2 separate regions of the Homo sapiens genome follow, and region 1 is linked to region 2. A link means that fine-mapping ties the variant in region 2 to the expression of a gene that starts in the linked region. Tissue or cell type: whole blood. Region 2 holds a variant in brackets; the other region holds the start of a gene. All regions are shown on one strand. Distances are from middle to middle. Region 1 holds the start of NIPBL-DT (NIPBL divergent transcript). Region 2 overlaps NIPBL (NIPBL cohesin loading factor).

Region 1 (11,633 bases), 49 kb after region 2:
TTTAAAAAAAAAGACTATAATCAAATAATGAATCAGCTATAACTGATCAAAACATTTTAGAATTACTCTTGTAAGCTCCACAAGAAAAACAGTGTCACTAACTTCATAATCAAGGCTACCCTTTCACCAAAAATTGTATTATAAATTTTGAAGAGCCAGGGTGGTAGAATGTAAAGAATAGAGGTTTTAGAATTAGATACATTTTAGCTGGAATCCTACTTCTAACACTTGCTAGGTTTGCTACCCTGAATAAGTTTCTTAAGCATGATGAACCTCAATTTCCTCTGTAAAAAGAGAACAGTATCACTAACTTCACTGAGTAGTTGGGTGGTTCAAATCATGATACACAGTATCGTGGTTAAGGCTTATGGGTAAAGTATCAACTCTGAAATCCTTTCTCCACTGTCTTGAACTTATTAGTTGTGTGACCTTGGGCTAGTCACGTAATCATTCTATATCTCAGTTTTCTCATACAACTAACTTCAATTTCATATTCAACTTTTCAATACCTTGAGGAACTGAAAAACCTTTTCCCTCGCACAGTTTCTGTCACATGGAAACATTCAATAATACTACATATTACAAACATAAAGCACTCAACATAGTGCCAGACACAAAAAAAATCCCTAAACTAAGTTTCAAGTGACGTTGTACAGTATCTAAAACTCAAATTCACCCCAGAAAATAAAGATTTGTCATAAAGATGAGAAAAAGACTATTTCAAATGTGTTAAAGGTATTCACAAAAGGAATTCCTATAAGGTTGTATGTACTGGCAACAGTTCTGGAATAAGCGCACAACCTCCCAAGTTGATGACTATAATGATCAACATTCTCTGGCTATAAAAATACTGAAACTTTACAAAATGATCAGTCATACTAATTTATAGATCTAGCTACTATCCTACAATTGGTCATATACATTTCTATGAATGAAATGACTCTCTAAAGCTGAACTTTGTCTTTCTAACAACAGATGCTTTGACAAACATCTTCAACTCAATATAAAATACTTCAAAGAACTAAAAGCTTCACAGACTGCTTAACAAAAATTGTTTTAAACACAAGATGGTAAAGAGTTATTGATTTTTAAAAGTATTATAAATACAGAATATATAGCCTGAATTCTATTTCAGCTTCTTTGCCTGAAGTACACAATTTTCTTGACTAAGTGACTGGGCAAGTATCACATCAACTAACACCCAAAAGATAATATTAAAATTTCATTGAAACTAGATACATAGAATCCTGAATCCATAAGAACAAATGTAAATCAGACTGATCATTTACTAATTGTAGGACCATGGGCAGTTTTCTAAACCTTTCCAGCCTCAGGTTCCTCATCTGTACATTGTAGATAATTATTGTTTCTACTTTTGGGCATGTTAAAAGATTAAATGAGATATTATGGGGACAGACTTAACTCCTGGCAAATAAGTCCTCAAAATCTTAGCTGGCAATGCTACATCAAGCAATGATCTCTCCTAATGATATAACTTTGGGAATAGAAAAAAATATGCCTTAAAACATAATGCAACTTGACAAAACTCAATTCAACAAAACTGACTCCAGATTTACACCAAAAAAAAAAAATTACACACAAGACAAATACCTAAAATTACTTTTATTACTTAATTTATTTGGGCAAAATATTCTAAGCACATAAAATACCCTTTAAAATTACAATGATGGCCTTAAGAGACATGGAGTTTAAAATTCCTTTTAAATCAACCAGAAACACTAAAATCCCACTCTATTTTCATACCAGGAAAATACAACCAAGAAACAGGTATCCTCTCTCTCAAAGACAAGAAAAATGCACTTTGAACTTAGATAATTGAAAAAGTAACAAATGGTGTCAGTGTCAGCACTGAGCAATACCTAGCTTCAAGACCAGAGCTCACACATTTCTTAAAGCAACATAATCTAAGAAAATACTAGTGTCAGGGAATCCCTTATCCTCCGGCTGACTTACTACATGAATCTACACAAATCATATGGTCTCTTAAGTGTCAAGTATTTCATCATTAAACGGAAAGCTGGTCACTTCTCTCACAGGGATATCAGAATATTTTTAAATGAACTCAGGTCACCTTGAAAAAGGACTAGTTTTAAAATACGAAGAATTATTATAAATGACAACTGCTGAAAAAACGAAAAACTTTGCTTAAAAAGTCCATCTTAAAACAATTTTTAAAGGCTATATAAGACCATAAATTACCACCAAACCTAACCTAGTACGCTCAGGATATTAAAATAAGCATGTTCAACTGAACAGTTAGTTGTCAGCCTTCTATAAAGGTTCCTAGTCAATTATTTCCCATTCATTTTTATGGCAAGTAAATGTGATAAACAGAATTAAAGTTACATTTCTCTAAAAGGAATTACTGTTTACCTCACACTCCCTAATCACTTCACATAAAACTGAAATCTTAATTTAAAATTTTAGAATTTCTTCCAAATTATGCTTTTCCTAATAAGCACCAGAAAGGAGGATTAAATGAAATTAAATAAAACTCAAACTCCTGGTTTTTATTTACTCTTATATTATTAATTACTACATCTTATTTTGAGAAAGTAAAAATACCACAATGGGGTATTTCAAACATGTAACACAGATATGTTCAAATATTTCTATGACAGTTTGATGATGGATTGGTACCAAAAAATTAAATATGAAATTAGTTGAAGAAGCCTTAGAAAATACATTTTTCGGCTGCAAGTAAAGAAAATTTTGTATTGGTATAGCTTGCTCATATTTTTGAAATTTAATAATGATTACTATGAAGAACCAAGTTTACTGCCATAGTAAAAACTTTCACTTTACATCCCTAAAAAGAATCTCAAGTAGACTGTTTTTCTTTTTTCAAGTAATGTATAACTTTTCCTTAAAAGCAGAAAATATTATAATGATCTCTAGAACAGGTTCAAAAATGTTCTCAGATAACTTTAGTAAACAAATTGTTGAATAACTTTAAAAAGGAAGCATCCTATATACACTTCTCAAACATTGAAAATTATCTATTTAATGTTCAACTCTGATTTACTTTCATTATTTACTTGAAATCTCTTTTCAAGTAACAAAAGTTATTGACAACTCTTCAGAGTTAAGAGAAACAATAAGCGACATTGTTGAAATTTCCTTTAGGTGTATGAGAAAATATTTCTCCAAATAATATAACTAGGATTATAAGGTTACTGGAACACTTCTGATTTCTCCTTTCACTGAATTTTAATTTTTAATGGAAATAGATGATTAGCCACTAGTGAATATTCCAACCAACAGAGGGGAAGCAGAACACTCTACACTCTTTAGGGAAACAAACTATTCTCTCCAACTAGGTTATCAGAGATTTAAAGTTCAAGTTTAAATTTTACAATTTGAATTTTACACAATGTTTTCTCCTTTAAAAATGACGTATTTAATTGGTTTGGACCAAACAAAACATATTTTTAAATTTAAAGAAATGTTTATGCTATCATAATGAAAGCTATCACACAACCTATATTACTCACAAATTACTAAATATGTAGAATTGGGAAAATAAGTTGGGAAGAACTAATTCACTATAACAATTCCAAAGTCTCAGGAAAAAAAAGAATCAATCACATAAACCCATCTCTAACACACTTATTCAAACATCTGCATAAGACAACCTCTAAAAATAAGTTGCTTCAGTTCGTGAAAATTAAGCAAGCACAACTCCTCTATTATCTTTAGTAAAAATATGTTTATCCCTTGAAATAAAAGTTGTAGAGACAATCACAGGAATATATGAAGGCCTTTTAAACATTTATAATGAAGCCCTTACCACCTCCATCCCCAAAAAAACAAACCCTCTGCTTTCTTAAGATGTGAAGTATTCCTCCCGTCTGCATTCCCTCCCTGGCATGCCCCCCACTCGCACACCCCCCCACCCGCAGTAGGCCTGAGGCCCCGTAGCAAACAGTGTCTAACAGGAGCAGGCAGCACAAAGACAGGAATGGGAGATTAGTGGGAGGGAGGGAGGCCGGGATTGGGGCTCAGCAGGAGCTTCAGGCTTTTTAAAATTCAAACTGCTCCCTGACCAATACAAATCACGGACACGCTACTGACTACTACACGGATTTATAGCATTAAAAACATGCCTAGTACGTGACAGCTATATTAACTTCATTCTTTTAAACATTTATCCGTACGTTTGCAGGAAATGTGAAACAATTTATTGTAATCAGGACGCTAAACTCAAAAATAACCTCCACAAAATAACTTATTCTACAGTGACAATAATTTAATGACACAAAAAATATGAACCAATGTAACAAACACTAGTAAAACAAGGGATTTCGCTGAGCAGTGCTGCTTCATTTTAACCAATGAAAGTTTTCCTTCAGCGAATATGAAACAAAATATCAAAACGTGTAACCCAGGTACACTTTTCTAGCAATTTGCCTGACTGAGGAATTTTAAATTGGTGTTTCCCCCTTATACCAACCTACATTATGAACGCCTCCATAAACAAGCTCGAAACACTTAACTTACTCATGAACTAGAACTTGTCAAGTTAGAACTGATATTTTTCTCCAGCATTTACAGATACATTTAACCTATTAAAATGACACCTCTCTCATTACACAGTCAAACATCATGGCACAAACAGCCAATGACAATCCTGGGACCTCAAGAAGAACTGCCCTGACATAAAAGGATGGCACCTTCTACAATTTTTTAACCTCCCAAGGATTTTAAGTATAACTTAATTTCTTTTTTGGAAAAAGAAAAGAAAAGTGGTTTTACCCGTATCTCAGCACAATTCTCAGAACACTTAAAATTCTTTGTATGCTCCTACACGTTTTGGTCAGGAAGTACCTGAGTGTTTTACGTATAGTCGCTTAAAACTGCCCTTACATAACGCATACAAATAGAAAGTGGCAGAGTAAACCTGTCAAGTACTTTATACTTGTCTTTGAATAAAAAGTCCATGTGCAACAACACACTGTCAAAACAACAAGATAAAAGCTCTTGGGGAGGGGGAGATGTGCAGTGTCTACCACAGTATGTTTTTCTGTATTAAATATTCATGTGGACGATTTAATTCTTTAAAAAAGAAAATGAGTCTTTATGAACTTTCCAACGTCCAAACAAGTTTTAGAAAGAGAAAGAATTACCACTGGATCCGCGTCTGAGTATTTACGTTTGTCTCACTAACTGAAACTACTTCCTCCCTTCATGGGGTCACAGGGGGAAGAAGGGAGGTTGTTTGTTTCACTGGGACGTTCCCCACTCCCGGACCGGGAAAGTTGTAAATATGGGGACGATCAGGGCACATTTGCTGTTAGTTGTATTGTTTCCGCCTCCCCACTAGCTACGGCTCCACTCCCGGGCGAGGCCTGTCACCGACCAGCAGTCGCTCCGCTCAGCCCGGAGCTCTCCTAATCCCCGAGCTCAAGTAGATTCCGCTGGCCCGCGGCCTGCACTCTCCGCCGGGCCTACGCCTCCCCGGCCGCCCAGCAGGAGCCCAGTCCCCGCCACCGGAGCCGGCCGGGAGAGGGTACAAAACCACCGCTACCCAAGGCGGCTGCCACCAGAGAGGAGCGAACTCTAGACTCGCCTGTGGAAGAGACCTGGGGCCGCTAAGGAAACGGCGGGGAGGGGAGCGAGGAGGAGAGACGCTGAGGACCTGGCGCCGGCGCCGCCGCCGCCGCCGCCGAAATAAAGAGCAGGAATTTACCTGGGCGAATCGGCGTCTGAATCCAAGGGGAGGCCGAGGCCGCTGTGGCGAGAGACTATAATCCGGGCCGGGAGGGGGGGTGGCTACGGCTCCTCTTCCGTCTCCTCAGTGCGGGGAACATGTAGAGCCGGGGGGAGACCAGCCGAGAAGACAAATCGTTGCTTCTTCTTCCTCCTCCTCCTCCTTCTCCCACATAGAAACACTCACAAACACCCGACCACGGGCCCGAGCTACCGGGGGGGCATCGCCGCGGGCCCGGGAACCAATTCTCCTGTCGGCGGGGGCGTCCCTCCCTGCGGCTTGGTGGTGTCGGGTGAGTCGGTACCGACGGAGGGAGGGGGGGGAGGGCGGGGGGAAGGAGCCCTGTGTGTGTCTCTCTCTCGTTCCGTCTCTCCCTCTCAGAACAAAATGCCGACCGGAAGTGCAGCTGCAGGAATGACTCCCTCCGCCGGCGCCAAACACTAACAACCACCCCCTCTTCCCCACTCCACTTCCGCCACCGCCGCAGCCGCCGCTGCCGCCACTTGGGCTCGCGTCCTCGGCCGCGCCGCGCGGCACCCGGGCCCAGCAGCCGGGAGGCGGCAGCTCTCCTCTACGCCCGTCCCCTCAGGGCGGCTGTGGATGTTGCCAGTATTGTCGATGCTTCAGAGCGACGTTTGCCCTGCGACACAGGCGGGCCGGCTCTCCTCTGTCTTTATTTTCCTGGAGGCCGACAGGAGCGGGGCCCGAGTTCGGTGGTGGTCGTGAGCGTGGGGGGCACTCAGGCCCGGACGGGCTCTCAGGTCGCCGACGGCGGCGGCTGGAGGCCGCGCTGGCTGTCCCAGGTCGTCGTTAGCTTTAGGGAGCCGATCTCCGGGCGGCCCCACAGAGGACGCCCGCGATTCGATGGCGATGATGCCCGTTTTAAATGGTGTCCCTGCAGCCGGGTGGATGGATGGATCGTACACCTTGCCTTTTGAGAGCCGGGACCTTACGCCCGACTGCGTGTTATTTCTGCGAATAAGAACGCAACCTTTGGAGGTGAAGACGACTGTCGGCTGGATTGAATTGGAATCGTGTTTGTGATGATGCGTTTATTTCTGGAAATACGCGGTCTCCGCTGCTTTTGCTTTTTGTCGGCAGAGGTTTGGGTTCTTCTCTAACGGTCAGGATAAAGGCCTGTAGGCGACGCTGCGCGAGCGAGAAGCTCGCCCGCGGCTGCCCGGGCGCCCCCCTCTAGGTGTGGGTGGAGCCGAGCGCGCGGGGAGAACCGCCGGCCCCGACTCAGCCACCGGTGACTGCGGGCGACCCGCGGGCCTGCGGCCAGCTGATTTCAAACATCGTTTTCCTCTTTAGGTTCGGAAAACTGAGGCGCTGGACAAGGCTGGAATACAATATGTGATTATACGTACAGTACTATGGTTGTTGTAGTTTTTAAATTGTAAAACAAGAAGTAACCATTGTTCCACCGTTCTCTATTAAGTTTGTGTAAATTAAAAAGGGGCTATTTTCGGTAAAAAGTGCAGTAGGTAAGCGGAATTTTACTCAACCGGGACGAAATTCGTGTTATATGAATTGTATTGTGTATTTGTGTGTGTACCAGTGCGCTAAAAGTAAGTAGGAAAACTTGCTTAGATTATTCCTTTTGCCTCAGGCCACTCAGGGGGCCAAGATCCTGTCACTCCTTTTCTCTAGGCCCTGCGAATGGCTTCCCGTCTTGAGGGGAGTGAGCCAAAGCCTTGACTGCGGCAGAAGTCCCCGCGCGCCGTTGAGGGTGGGGGCGGGCCTGCCCTGGCATCCTTGCGAGTAGGACTCTTCCCTGAGCGTCGTCCACAGGGCTTGCTCCTTCACCTTCAGGATTTTGCTCGTGTCACTCGGTGCTTCCGCGGCTACTTTTAAACTGAAAGTTCCCTAGCCCCCTTCTCATTTTATCCTTTGGACAGTCTACATATCCATACTTGTTTATCTTCTTATCTCTCCTTCCCCAGTGCAATGTAAGCTCTAAGAGGACAAGAGGTTGTGTTTTTCTGCACTGGTGTTACGGCCCCCGCCTAGAATGCCACACAGTAGATGCGTAGTATGTGGTTAAGGAATGAATGCGATTATAAGGGCCTTGATGCTCCCCCATTTCTGTCTTTAATATGTACTTATATGCTACAGAGAGCTTTATAAAAGATTTAAAACACGTTTATTACAGAATTCTATAAAAATATATTGCTTCTAAACATTGGAAAGCCCTCCACAACACCAGAAACCCACAAATGAGGGATAAAATTTGTTTTTAGGCTTCTGTAAATGAGCATGCCCGAGGACAGTGCATCAAATGATCATATCCATACTGGGCCGATTATGTTTGCTCTTCTGAGTCTCAAACTGCATTCTTCATCTTGTCGTCCTCTGTCTTTCAAAATACATTAAAAGTGAGAATTTGGTTGGCTCAGAGCAAATCCAGCACTATTGGAAAAGTTCATTCAGCAAGTATTTATTGGGCACAAATGGGTACCAGGCACGCTAATTCAAAAGGTGTGTGTTTCTGAGGCTAGAAGGCCTTACATAAAGGACCACATGTGGCTACTTTGGTTGCTACTCAATTATGCTGTCAAGCAAAGCAAATGCTAGTGAAATTTATTTTTAGTTTTCTTCTGAAGAAAAGGTTCAATGAAAGCTGAGGTCAGGCTTGGTGTGGATATTTTAATTCACCATTTAGTTTGCTGTTTGCTTACACTTAGGTTAGCATTAGATATACTTAATCATGATTTTTGAGTACTATAAAACGTGAGAAATCTTATTTCCTAGTGGCTGGAAAAACAGGCTTTTTAAATTAAAATAAGTAAATATATCAGTAAGCTAGAAGCTATGCAATAAGGCTTTGGCTATGGTATTACAAATTTTCATATTTCATGTATTGAATTTTTGGACAAGAAAAGACAGCCTTGATAGGTATTTTATAACCATTAATACAATTAATCAAACATTGTTTAGTAAATCCAATCGTCTATTCATTATTATTTTTCCCATTAATCTTCAGAACAGCTTTAAGTTAATACAGATGACTCAGAATGTGTTTTTCACTCAGTTTCAAAATACCATTATTTCAATTCGCTAATAGAAGCACAATTATCTTCTTGTCTGCTTTCTTAAATGTTACTGGTAAACTAGTAATTTTGCATGTCCAGGTAACTGCAGCTGCTACAGTCAATCTGCTTTGGAAAGTCTTGGCATTATTGTGTCATTTAATTTAAAATTTTTAAGTTTTTTTAGTTTCTTCCCTTATTGAGGACTTATTAGGCGCTAATTAGCTTTATGCTAGACATCTCATGCATGGCAGTGAATGAAAACAACACTGCCTTTGAGGGTTTTAACTTGTATATAGTTTATACCATTTTTTTTCCAGGTTATAGAATCAAAGAAATTGTTTCAATTCATATCACAGTATTTCTCTATTAAATCAAATGGTATTTTGCTTGCATAAATTTAAGTATCCAAGTTGAGATCTTACATAGAATCTGTTAATCTAATATTAGTGTTTTCTTCATTTCATTGTCTTGGGTTTTTTTTTCTTAATAATTATTTTTCCCAATACCATCCATTTGTTTTGCTCTTACATTTTTAAGTCTTTTATGTTCCAAATCAGGTGACTTACATCCTCCACTTGTCCATTGAGGATAGCCCAGTAAACCTTTATTCTGACTTTAAATTGCCTCCTTGCTTCAAGAACTGAGTTGCATGACTCAGTTTTCTTTGCTAGAAATATCCCTGGATAGTCTCGTATGTATTCTTGATCAATGAATTGCAGAAGATTTGATTAAAAATTTTAAATGGATTTCAGGGATAAACTATTTGTATCAAATGTCATCACCAGGAATTTCTACAACTGAAAAATTTGAATTGTTATTTTTATTGAAGAATATTTATCTTTAAGATAAATGCAACTTGCTATAAAATGATAGAAATGAAAAATTTTAGAAAATCATTTTCTACTCACTATTTTATGCCTGCCAGTTATCCTTTGTTAGTGATAAAATTGTCTTTTATGGGAACGAATTTGTTAAAGGTAGAAAAAAAACTGGTAGTGTATGTATGTTTTATAGATTAGACACTACCAAAATTATTTAACATTTAGAATAATTAACTTGCTTTCAGGATGACAGATGACTTAAGAAACTGATGAAGGGTTAATTAAGGATATTGATTTTTAGGGCAGAACTACAAAATTATCAAATCACTTAACACTGTAAATATGTTCCTGTTTCAGGTTTTCAAAGTAAATACCTTAATCAAATTTGGAAATAGTATTTATGGATTTTATTCAACATAGATTATCTATTTTGTTAAAATTATAGAAATGAACAGTTCTTTTCCCATGGATGCCTTTTTTCATCTTGGCCTATTCTGATCCTTTAAGAACAAGCTTTGTCCTTTCATTAATACTTCTCACCTATAATTACGAATTTTCTCTAAACTTGTAGATTTTATTATCCATGCCATCTATTTATAATCCTATGACACTCCTATATTGTTTATGGTTTTTTTGTTTTTTTTTGTTTTTTTTTTTAGACGAAGTCTTGCTCTGTCACCCAGGCTGGAGTGCAGTGGTGCAATCTCGGCTCACTGCAAGCTCCGCCTCCCGGTTCACGCCATGCTTCTGCCTCAGCCTCCCCAGTACCTGGGACTACAGGCGCCCACCACCACGCCCGGCTAATTTTTTGTACTTTTAGTAGAGATGGGGTTTCACCGTGTTAGCCAGGATGGTCTCCATCTCCTGACCTCGTGATCCCCCGGCCTCGGCCTCCCAAAGTGTTGGGATTACAGGCGTGAGCCACTGTGCCTGGCCTTACTGTTTATGTTTTCATGCATCTATACCTTATGTTACTAAATCAAAGTGACCAGTTCCACATTATACTACAAGTTTCACTGTGTAATGCATAAGAATTACACAGAGGGAAGGGCCTCAAAAAATGCACTTCTGAAGTATTTTAATGTAAAATTATTTAAGACCATAAAGTTTCATGAAAGCCTAATCTTTCTGGAACCTACACATACTCTGCATGTGAACCAGAGTTAAACTAGTCAAGTATTTTAATACTGAACTAATCTGGAAAAACATCATTTAAAAAATTACTGTATTTATGAAGGAAGAATATAAAATCTGTTAAAAACTTAAAACATCTAAAATAGGTATGAAGAGAGGCTTATGGTGCTCATTTTAACAGCATTCTTGAGTAGGTTACCTTGCAGTCAAAGCATCTGCTCCAGACCAGTGTTTTAAACTGTGGATTATGGTACCACTATGGGTCATGAAATTAATTTATTGCATTATGACTAGCATTTTTTATTTAAAATAGAGAAAAGAATAGAAAATAAAAGCGTACATCACAGATGGTAAGGGTATGTGTTTTTAAGTAAACATTTGTTCATGTGTATATGTGTTAGATTACCTTGTAAAACATATTCCTTATTGTGGGTTACAGGCCAAAAAAAGTGTTTGTTTTTGTTTTTAAAAATCTACAGTTCAGATTTTCCTTAGAAAATGGGGAAAAAAGGAATGTTAGAAAGATCTGACTGCCTATGAACTAGTGAAGGATTTTAGAGGAAGTACCAGGCTATTTTAGAGATCTGATACTGGTTTCAGAAAGGTAATCTTAAGGCAAAGGGTAGGAAATAAAGTTATGTTGTTAGTAGAAATGTCAAATACGGTTAAAGTTGTGAGGAGGAATTATTTTCCTAGTGGACCTACATTTGTTGTGTGTAGATCTGTGACTATTACTGATCTGTTGTAGCACATTTTCCAATCTAAAATGTCCGATACAGCACAATAATAAACATGGGGCAGAATATATGTTTGTTTCTATTTCTTCCCACCTTCCCTTCAATCTTAAAACAAGTGTTTATTAATAAGTCAGACCAAAGCAAATTTCTATCTTTCACAGAGTAATTATCATAG
Region 2 (11,633 bases):
CCAAGGTGGGCAGATCATTTGAGTCCAGGAGTTCGAGAGCAACCTGGGCAACAAGGAAAAACCTCGTCTCTATAGAAAATACAAAAATTAGCCAGGCATGGTGGCATGCACCTGTGGTCTTAGTTTCTCAGGAGGGTTAGGTGGGAAGATCACTTGAGCCTAGGAGGCAGAGGCTGCAGTGAGCCGAGATCACACCACTGCACTCCAGCCTGGGTGACAGAGTGAGACTCCTTTTCAAAAAAATAAAAAAAGAAAGAATTAAAAGGGAATATTAACTTTAAGCCAACAAATTACACAACTTATATTAAAAAAAAAGGAAATTCTTCAAAAGACAAATTACCAGAACAGACTCAACAAGAAATAGAAACTCTGAATAGATCCCTAACAAATAAGAAAACTGAACTACTTATTAAAAATCTTCACACTAAGAAAGCCTAGGCACAGACGATCTCACCAATGATTTTTATGAAATATATAAGAAAGAATAGCAAACTTTTATAAACTGTTTTATAAACTAGAGAATATTTCCCAGCTGAGTCTGGTATCACCAAAGCCAGACAGAGACAATGCAAGAAAACTACAGACCAATATCCCTCATGAACACACATACAAAAATTATTTTTTAAAAACTGGCAAACCAAATTCATCAACATATAAAAATGACTACACATTATGACCAAATGGGATTTATCCTGTGAATGCAAGGGTGGTTAACCATCTAAAAATAAATTAATGTAAAACATCTTATTAATAGAAATAGCAACTAAAGCTACATGACCATTTTGAAAGACACAGAAAAACACTTGACAAAATCCAACAACCACTATTTTTTAAAACTCTCAAAAATTAGAAATAAAAAGGCTCTTCTTCAACCTAATAAAGAGCATCTATGAAAATTCTACAGCTAACTTCCCTATCAGGAGAAAAACAAAAATGCCTGTTCTTATTCCTTCCACTGAATATTGTCCTGTAGGTTTTAGTTAGTACAGCAAAACACCAAAAAGTAACACATTTTAAGAAAAAAACTTAAAAAGATATTAAATGCATTCAGATTAGACAGGAAGAAATGAAACTGCATTATCAGATGACACTGTCCAGTATGTAGAAAATCCTAAGAAACCACCAACGAACAACTAGAATCAAAAAAAAGCTCAGCTAGATCACAAGATAGAAAATCAACATACAAAAATCAGTTGTATTTCTATATTCTAGCAAAAATGCAAAAATGAAATTAAGAAAACAATTCCATTCAAACTAGGACCATGAAGAATATTTGGGAATAAATTTTTAAAAATCAGTATAAGATTTGTATTTGCACACTGTTATAAGACACTGCTGAGCCAAAAAGATCTAAAACATTCCATGCTCATAAATTAGAAGACTCAAAATTGTTAATATGGTAATTCTCTTCAAATTGATCTATAGATTCAACATAATCTTTTTCAAAATCCCAGCTGTTTTTTTTCCATAGAAATAAGCTGATCCTAACTTTATAGGAAAATACAAAGGATCTAGAATAGCCAAAATAATTTAGTGAAGAAAAAAGTTGGAGAACTTATACTACCCAATTTCAAAACTTACTATGAAGCTACAGTAATCAAGATTGTGTGCTATTAATATAAGGACAGGTATACGGATTGATCAATGAAGAGAATCTAGAGTCCAGAAATAAATCTTTGTATTTATGTTAGATTTTTCACAAAGATGCCCACAAAATTCAATGGAATAAAAGACAGTCTTGTCAACAAATGATTTTTAGATAACTGGACATTTACATGCAAAAATAAATTTAAAAACAGACCATTAACTTATACCATACACAAAAATTAATTCAAATGGATCAAATACCTAAATGTATGAGCTTAAACTATAAACCATCTAAAGGAAAATATAGGAGAAAACATCTGTGACCTTAGGTCAGGCAGAGTTCTTAGATGACAAAAACAAGGCAGAGTTCTTAGATAACAAAAACATGAGCCATAAAAGATAAAACTGATAAACTGGATTTCATTAAAGTTAACAATTTTCATAGTTCAAATGATATCAATAAGAAAATGAAAAGACAAGCCATAGACTGGGAGAAAATATTGCCAAATCACAAATCTGATGAAGCTCTTGTATTCAGAATTTAAATGAACTCTCACTAGTGAACAAGAAGATAACACAACTTTGAAAATGGGCAAAGAACTTACTTAAGACACTTCACCAAAGAACACATATGAATGGCTTATAAATATACAAAAAAAAGTGCTCAATATCACTTCACCAAAGAACACATGTGAATGGCTTATAAACATATAAAAAAAAGTGCTCAGTATCATTAGTCATTAGGTATATTCTCACTGAAACCACAATGATACCATGACACATCCATTAAACTGTCATAATGTTATAAAAAAAGACACTATTAACTGTTGGTGAAGATGTAGAGAAACTTGAACCCTTACACACTGCTGGTAGAAATGTAAAATGATACAGCCACACTGGAATACAGTTTGGCTGTTTCTTAAAAAGTTAATTATCATATGACCCAGCAATTCCATTCTTAGGAATGTATCCAAGATAAATAAAAACGTATGTCTACACAAAGATTTCTCCATGAATGCTCAAAAAAGTATTACTCATAAAAGTAAAAAACTGGAAATTATATAAGTATCTACCAACTAGTGTATAGACAAACAAAATATCATAATACAATGAACTACCATTCAGCAATAAAAAAGAACAAAATACTGATACGTTATGTCATAAATGAACCTCAAAACATGCAAAGTGAAAGAAGCCAGATGCAAAATACTACATATAATTCTTTTTAGATGAAATGTCCAGAAAAATTTATAGAAACAAAGAGCAGATCAGTAGTTGCCAGGACTGGAGAGGGCTGTGGGAGTTGGGAACTCACTGCAAATAGGCTTGAGGAAAATTTGGGGACTGATGAAAAGGTTCTAAAACTAGAAACCATTAAATTGTATACTTAAACAGGTGAACTTTATATTAAGCGGATCATACCTCAATAACGTTGTAAAGTAAAATTGCATCTAGAGATATTAATCTCCTTTATCTAGCTCTAAACATTTCTCCTTAGGTCAATATATTTTTCCTTAAGAAATTTTTTTAGTTAGTAAAAACATTTATTGTACATACTGATCATATACAGTACTAACAATTTCTGGGAATGCAAAAACAAACACTGTGATTTGGTTGTATTAATTAGCTCTAACTTGCACTTGACTAAAATTTCTTGAGAAGAATAGGCAAAGCAATCATGTTTTTAAGCAAGCTTACAAACTGTCACCTGCATGTAGTTAAAGACTACTTCACTTACCCTAGGATGACAGTTACATTCAATATAATTACCCTGTTTTGAAAAGATTCACTGATATATTAAAGTAGGAAGGCATCTTACAAATAATCTAGTCCAATCTCTTCGTTTTACAGATAAGAAAAAGATGAAATTACGTGTTCAAGACCACACATTCAAAGTTAGTTGCAAAGCTTCCCAGTCTCCTGACTTTCCTGCTCTTTTTGTGCATCGAGTATGGTTTTATTGAAAGAAAGTGGTAGAAAATTTAAAAAAAAAAAATCACTGCAGCCGGGCATGGTGGCTCATGGCTGTAATCTACTTCGGGAGGCTGAGGCAGGTGGATCACCTGAGGCCAGGATTTTGAGACTAGCCTGGCCAACATGGCGAAACCCGTCTCCTTTACCACTTTATTCTCCCTTGGTGATTTCCATGTCTCAAGGATTTTAAACACTATATATATTAAAGACTCCAGCCTGGACCTCTCTCCTGAACTCCAGACTGGTATATCCAACTGCCTATTTGATATCTCCATTTGGATGTCTAACAACCATCTCAAACTTACTTCCAAAATAAATTCCTTATACTGTTCTTCGTGCTTCTTCTACAATACTCCTAATTTTGATTAAAGACAACTCATTTGTCCAGTTCCTTTGGCCAAAAATCTTATTATCCTTGACTCCTATCTTTTTTACACAACTTTTGGATCGTGAGTCTCTACCTTCAAAATATATCCAAAATTCGACCATTTCCAAGCCACCATGCTCCCTTCCCAGACTCTTAATTGGTCTTTTTCACTCTTGCACTCCTTGGCAGTTAAACATAGCAATCAGAGATTCTATTAAAATACAGGTTGGATCATGTCACTCTTTTTGAAATCCTTCAATGACTTTTTCAGAGCAAAGGCAAAATCCTTATAATGATCTACAAGTTTAGAATATGAATAACATTTTAAACCAAAAATCCGCCTTGATATTCTTTTCTCCTCTCAGTAAAATATGCCTGTATCCTCCTTGAGAAAACAATACTTATAATATGTAAGTGTTATATAAATTGGTGAGAATATAACATTAAATGAAATGGAGTGGAGGATTCTTTCTTTTCTCAGATCTCATACACCTACAACTCTTGAACTCAAGTCGTGATACAAAAGCAGATGATAGTACACTGTTAATCATAAAGCAAATATTAGAGGGAGAATATACATATTTATAGGAAAAAGTGTTTATAGTTCTAACGTCAACAAAACCAACTTCTCCTTTCAAATCAAACCAATAAACATTTTGGTTCAGCTTCAGGAAAAATTGACTCCCATTATAGGTGCTCTGATTCTAATAACTGTTTAAATTTGTTCCCGGTAAAAAAATACATGAAACCATTTGCCCTATTACCAATTTTTTTCAACTTGAATTTACACAATCTAAAATAATTGGTTTAATTCAATGTGGCAGATTAAAAACCACATGATTAGTACTCATGGCATGCCTATACCAAAATATCTCACATACCCCATAAATATATATACTTACTATGTACCCACAAAAATAAAAAATAAAAACCACAAATTATTTGCTAGTCCTCATATTGAGGTAATGGCTAATTCCTCTCCTTTGAATCTGGGCTGACCTTTGTGACATGCATGGTGAATAAAATGCAGCAGAAAGGGGCTAGGTGATAAGAAATCTTACAGCTTTCAAATAAGCATGTTGACAATACTTTTTGGAAACCCTGATCCACTATGTTAAATATCACATGACCATGAAAAAGCCATGCTGATGATGCTGTATGCAGATGCTACACATGATGTCTCCGCTGAATCGAGCCTTTTGGCTGTCTCTACCAAGGCGGCACTTATATGGGTAAAGCCATCTGGAACTATTCTGGCCAGCCCATCTACCAGCTGAATACCTCCAAGTAACCTCCATCACCACCACATGAACAAAGCCAAGCCCTGCCTAAATTCCTGACCCACAAAATCGTGAGACATAGGAAAATGGCTGTTATTTTAAAACCACACTAAGTATGGGGAGTAGTTTGTTACACAGCAACAGATAACTGGAACAGTCAGTAACATTTTTTTGTTTTGTTTTTAAATCAAACTGGCAACAAAGAAGTTCTCAAAGGTACATTTACAGTGTTCAAAAGTGGTAAAGAATTCACAGAGTGAGCCAAAGGAATTAAGTCAGGATATATGTTTATTCTCATATTCAGGAAGGTATTGCCATGGTAATGGAGAAACTACTGACGTGACTGAGTCATCAATGAATTAGACTTGAGAATGGGTACGAAAATGAGAAGAAAATATTCATAAATGATACCTAGCTAAATGAGCATAGCAGGAGGTTAAAACAAATCCATGACTTAGAAGTTTGGGAGACAGGGTATAGAATATTATGTTCTTGGTCTAGTTGGACAGAAATAAGTAAGAATGGAAAGCAGGAAATGTGAGTAGAATATAGGCAAATGAACAGACAATGGGAACTGTAAGTTACGTAGGATGGATATATGTTCTCTTAGCTCAGCCTCAAGAAGAAACAGCCTTCTAACAATATGCAATAGTGGCAAAAACAGGTTTTTAATTATAATTCTGCCACGTACTAGTTGAAAGACTTTAAGTTATTTACTTAGTCTCTTTGA[G/A]GGTTTCCTCAAATATAAAGTGAGGATAATAGTGCCTACCTCAGAGTTATTTTAAAAATTAATGAACTGGCTGGGCGCGGTGGCTCATGCCTTTAATACCAGAACTTTGGGAGGCCGAGGTGGATGGATCACCTGAGGTCGGGAGTTCGAGACCAACCTGGCAAACATGGTGAAACCCCGTCTCTACTAAAATACAAAATTAGCCGGTGTGGTGGTACATGCCTGTAATCCCAGCTACTCAGGAGGCAAAAGCAGGAGAATCACTTGAACCCAGGAGGCGGAGGTTGCAGTGCGCCGAGATCACGCCATTGCACACCAGCCTGGGCAACAAGAGTGAAAATCCATCTCAAAAAAAAAAAAAGTAATGAATTAATGTATGTAAAATAAGTGTAAAAGACAATAAATATTAAATTTGGAGATATGATATACTAGAAAAGAGTGTTTTAAAGTATTACTATCAATGCTATTAATAGATAGCATCACTTATTTGAGTACCTTCTATATGCCAAGCATTCTGCTAGATAACATTAATCTTCAGCAGATTCCTGTCAGACAGATATTGACCTCCCTACTTCATACTTATGAAATACCTGCATAAGTGGACAAAGTAACTGCTTAGTAGCATCGTAAAATATTTTCCTTTAAAAATACAATTATTGTTTCTTAACCTGATGACAGAATAAAAGATATATAAAATTTTACTGACAAAGATACTGGTATAATGGATGTAAGTAGTCAAAGAAAAAGGCCTTTAATAGAGGCCCCCAGGAATTATTATAGAAAATAAAAGCAAAATGGAAACGTCTGGGGTGGGGATAGGACAAGGAAATCTTAAAAGGGAATGTGAGATGAGAGTCTGAGGAAAAATCTATTTCTTGTATTAGCTAGACTGGAGATTTTCTGTCACTGTTGATAATAACAGCAGTTAGTGTCAGCTATGTACATTACTAGCTGCTTTACATTCATATCATCATTTAATTTTCATGGCAATCATCCAAAGCAGTTATCATTCATTTCATTAAAAATTTAGTGAGTACCTACAAGGTACCAGACATTGTGGATACACCTATACACAAGACAATACAGTGTTCCTGACCAAACCAGCTGGCAAACTATTATAGAAATGGAAGCCTTTTCAAAGAGGTTACAGTAATTTGCCTAAGTTCACACAGCTAATAAAGACCACAATCAGAATATGAATTCAAATCTTACTCCAGGCCTATGTTCTTAACCACTACACTTAATGACACAATAAAAAAATAAAAAATTCTGTAATGCTGACAAGCTACAAAACTATTTAAACTGATATAAAATTTTCTCAAGAAACATTCAGTAACACACTAAACATTTTATTAATCATCCATAATTAATAATTTATTAAACAGTTATATTTAAATTTATTTCAATAATATTCCATGCTTACTGCAGTTGTAACATTTAAAGATCAAAAATTTGGATATTAGTTCAAGAGGAAAATAGCTGTTATCCAAAGTTAAGAGCTATATTCATTGAGTTCTATGTTATCTGATTTAGTTTGATTAATCACTTAAGCAATCATGTTAACAAATAAGAAAATCCTAAAGATAATAATAACAGATCTTAGTGGAAAGCAACAATGTGAGTGAACAAATTATAACAATGTCATCTATAGGACAATTAGTAGAATACAGATAACTTGGAACTTGCAAATATAATCCTTAACCACTTTAAAACAGGAATTCATTCACTCAAAAGTGCATCTTGCTCTATCCATTTATAAGACTAGATATTGCCAGGACTCAATTTGCAATTTTTATATCATATTATATATGAACTTTCTACAAATAGTAGTGAACATTTTCACAGCCTCAGGGTGTTGATTGGGCCTTAACACTTATTATTATCCCCTTAGAGTCTCATTTATATCAATCAGTTGGTATCTAATACAGACATTACACAGAAAGCCAAAACAGGTCAACCAAGACTACTTCTGTGACTGCAGAAAAAGATTCTTCTGGATATAAAATTTTTAAAGTAAGAGTATTTATCAGAATAACTAAATTGTAAAGTAAATAACCAAAGACCACATAATGTTTCAGGCCACAGAAAGAAGAATGTATATAAAAGCAGGAAACTGGTCACTTTCCATAAAGGACCTTAATAAGTGTTTTTAATAATAACTAACAACAATATTCAAAGATTACTCTAGTTATCAGATCAAGAGATATCAAGATAATGTCCTCAACTTATCCATGAAAGGAAAAAATATATATATATCTCAGAGAATAACATCATTGGCCCTGAGAAGTCAGCATTTTTTTGTTGTTGTTTGTTTTTGTTTTTTGTTTTGAGATGGAGTCTCGCTCTGTCATCTACGCTGGAGTGCAGTGGTGTGATCTCGGCTCACTGCAACCTCCACCTCCTGGGTTCAAGCGATTCTCCTGCCTCAGCCTCCCAAGTAGCTGGGACTACAGGTGCACGCCACCACACCCAGCTAATTTTTGTATTTTGTATTTTTAGTACAAAATTACAAAAATTTTGTAATTTTGTATGTTGGCCAGGATGGTTTTGATCTCTTGACCTCGTGATCCGCCCGCCTCGGCCTCCCAAAGTTCTGGGATTACAGGTGTGAGCCACCAGCCCTGGCCTAGAAGCCAGCTTTAATTGGTTTAGTTACAACAAATCTTTTCTTTCAAATGTATTTTTCTTTAACTTTGTTTACAGAGATAATACTGGAAAGGACCTTAAAGGTGGTAGAAAAGAAATCTGTAGTTCAAATCAGTTACCCTTTAACATTCCCTTTATCAAAGGTAAGGTAAAGAAAGGTAAACTAATTTTCCAAGGGTTTGCTTTTTGGCATTTATCTTCTCAACAAAATTGCGATGGTACATAAAATCATCAAGTTTAGGCATAACAACCCTAACAATTTAAATGTTTTATAAGTAATATAAGTACATGAACCTCAGAGTTCATCACTGCACAACTTCATAAAATGAGTAAGATAGTCAAATCCAGGACTTTCTAAAACAAAACCTGTGCTTTCTGCAGTAATACCAAATACCACCATTAGACAGCCAGAGTGATTCCAGAGAAATAAGTATCCAGTATGCTGGACATTTCCTACATTTCATACTAAGTTAAAAGTATAATACTCGACAATGGCCAAAAGAAAACTGACCCCTCAGTTTTGTTTTCTTCATGGCTCTTAAGGACTCAAAATACTTTTTCTATGAATATACTACTCAAGTGGGTAACCTCAGATGAGATTTCACCTATACTATGAATAGCATGATTTTTCTTATTGAAAAATCAAACTAATAGGTTTAGGGTAAGAGTATAAAAATTATGATAAAAATCCAATTTTTAAGAAATGGGTCAAAATTCAAGGTCATTATACAAAAAATAAGGAGGTGGAAAATGGGCAGTGATAGAAACTGGTAACATATTTTTAAGAAAAACATTGAAGGGGCCAGGTGCTGTCGCTCATGCCTGTAATCTCAACACTTTGGGAGGCTGAGGCGGGCAGATCGCCTGAGGTCAGGAGTTCAAGACCAGCCTGGCCAACATGGTGAAACCCCGCCTCTACTAAAAATAACAAAAACTAACCAGGCGTGGTGGTGGGAGCCTGTAATCCCAGCTACTCGGGAGGCTGGGGCAGGAGAACCACTTGAACCCGGGAGGCAGAGGTTGCAGTGAGCTGAGATCACGCCACTGAACTCCAGCCTGGGTGACAGAGCAAGACTTCGTTTCAAAAAAAAAAAACAAAAAAAACCCAAAACCAAAAAAACACTTTGAGGAAAATGTATTTCAACAATAAAAAGTTAATAATTTCTTGTCCCCCTGCATTTTATTTTTGAATTATGATTTACCAAAACTCAATACAGTTAAAGTTTTTAAGCAACAATCAATTCTGTGTTTGTCCCATTCATTTTGGAAAGCTGGTATTTTCATTAAAATAGCTTTATAAAACGTAGGATTTTACTCCTGTGGCAAATGAATTCTCCTTTCCCTAACTGAAGGCAAACTAAAATCCTGCCTATTTTTTTTGTAAGCTTCAAAATTGGGAAAGTGGTGACAATATGAACTTATCTCGACAAATGCCCAAGTCCTAAATCATCACTTTTGATTTTGACCTGGCAAGAACATAAATTAAAGAAAAAGTAAGCCAAGAAGAACAATTAATATTTTCATGAAATGGTGAAGACAGGCACAGAATTGTAAGACAACAGTTCCAAGTGAAGACAGTACTTTTTATTTTGCTTTAGTGTGAGTAGTATAACAGACTATGCTACCAGACTAATAGTTCCATGTATAATACTAGTTCTAATGATAATTTTACTAGTTTTAAGATTTCATCATAGATTTTTACATCCACTCTATTTCAAAATAGTAGTCAAACCAGAATCAATATGTACTCATGGAAATATCAGTAATTTTTTTTTTTTCAGGAGATGAAATTTTCCTGTTCAAGAACATATAATACACTTTAGGTCCAGGGGTAAAAATGTGGTGTAGGATGAATTTTTCTTGGTGGATCTGGAGGAATGGGGAGACGCTTAAAAATTAGCTAAGAAAACTAGAGTATATTATTTGGTATTGAGGAGAGAATAAGGTAATCTGAAGTTTTTTGAAGATAGGTAAACCTAACCCATGGTAAAATGTAATTTATAGTACAGTCCTGAATGACAAGATCAAAATAGTAAAAGCAAAAGATAATTACAGCAGCCAAAGCAGAGAATGGGAATGTAGAAGAAAGTGACAACTATAGCAGCAATACAGAGGAGAGAATGAGAGAGTAGGTCCAGGCAGTCTTTGAAAAAAAAAAAAAATTAAGGAACAAAGAAGAAGATATGTAAGGTGACAGATACAGGTTAAAGATGCCACATAAAGTATATAAGGTGGTCAAGCTACTGAGAGGAGGAGCACAGTACTTAGTGGCGGGTGATCACAGCAGCAGACAACATTTTTCTTTGCTGAAAGACATTTATAAAATGATTCCATTTTAATAGCCACTAAGTAGCAAAGAACATAATATGCCACGTACATTTTTTGAAATAGATATGAACAGAAAGTGGAAGTCTGATAATTTTCATTTCAGAACACTGTTTCTTGTTCTATATTAGTGCTTTCTTATCAAAAATACTATCAGTCATTAGATTCCCAAGTTTGACCTATTAAAAAATTAAAGCATCAACTTTAAACTCACACAGTCAAATATCAAAAGTTGAGAGTCACATCTGTCCTAAAGCAATGTGCTCATTATTCATTCAAGGTCTACCTGTATGATTTCACCATATCTGAATATCATCAGTGTACTATTATTTACTTTATGTTTTTCTTTAAAATGGCTATTTGTTGAAATACACAAATTGACAACATGCTTGTAACAAGTGTTTTTCAAGTGACACAAATCTAAATGCGTTACAAGTTCTGTCATCATCAATTTATGCTTTCTTAGTCTCTGAAAACATATGCATTTGTGTCACTTGAGAAGCCTTTTCTTTTTTTAATCCCATGAAATCAGAAGTATAACATGTAGTTATATTTCTCTGATATTCATATCACCTTACAAAAAAGCTGCCTACTGTAATAGCTTCAAAAATGAGTATTTCTATCCTGAAAATGGCAAAATACTATTGCCATAAAAAATACAAAAGAAACTTCAGTGAATCTCAAATGTTACAACCCATTTTAGAAATCAAAAGATAAAACAGAA

What was found.
Region 1: it holds the start of NIPBL-DT, and the variant in region 2 is fine-mapped to the expression of NIPBL-DT in whole blood (INTERVAL, PIP 0.92).

What each region holds. Positions count from the first base shown.
Region 1 is chr5:36,871,256-36,882,888 of GRCh38, reverse strand. NIPBL-DT (NIPBL divergent transcript) reads left to right here and starts at 6,195. Exons shown (of 1, transcript NR_046262.1): 1 at 6,195-11,528. NIPBL (NIPBL cohesin loading factor) reads right to left here and starts at 6,120. Exons shown (of 47, transcript NM_133433.4): 1 at 5,711-6,120. RefSeq lists silencers at 5,495-5,614, 6,255-6,364 and an enhancer at 6,775-6,824.
Region 2 is chr5:36,919,939-36,931,571 of GRCh38, reverse strand. The region is part of intron 1 of NIPBL (NIPBL cohesin loading factor); the gene reads right to left. Among named protein-coding and RNA genes, the nearest start is that of NIPBL, 49 kb to the right of the region's middle. The variant G/A (reference allele first, on the strand shown) is at 5,939.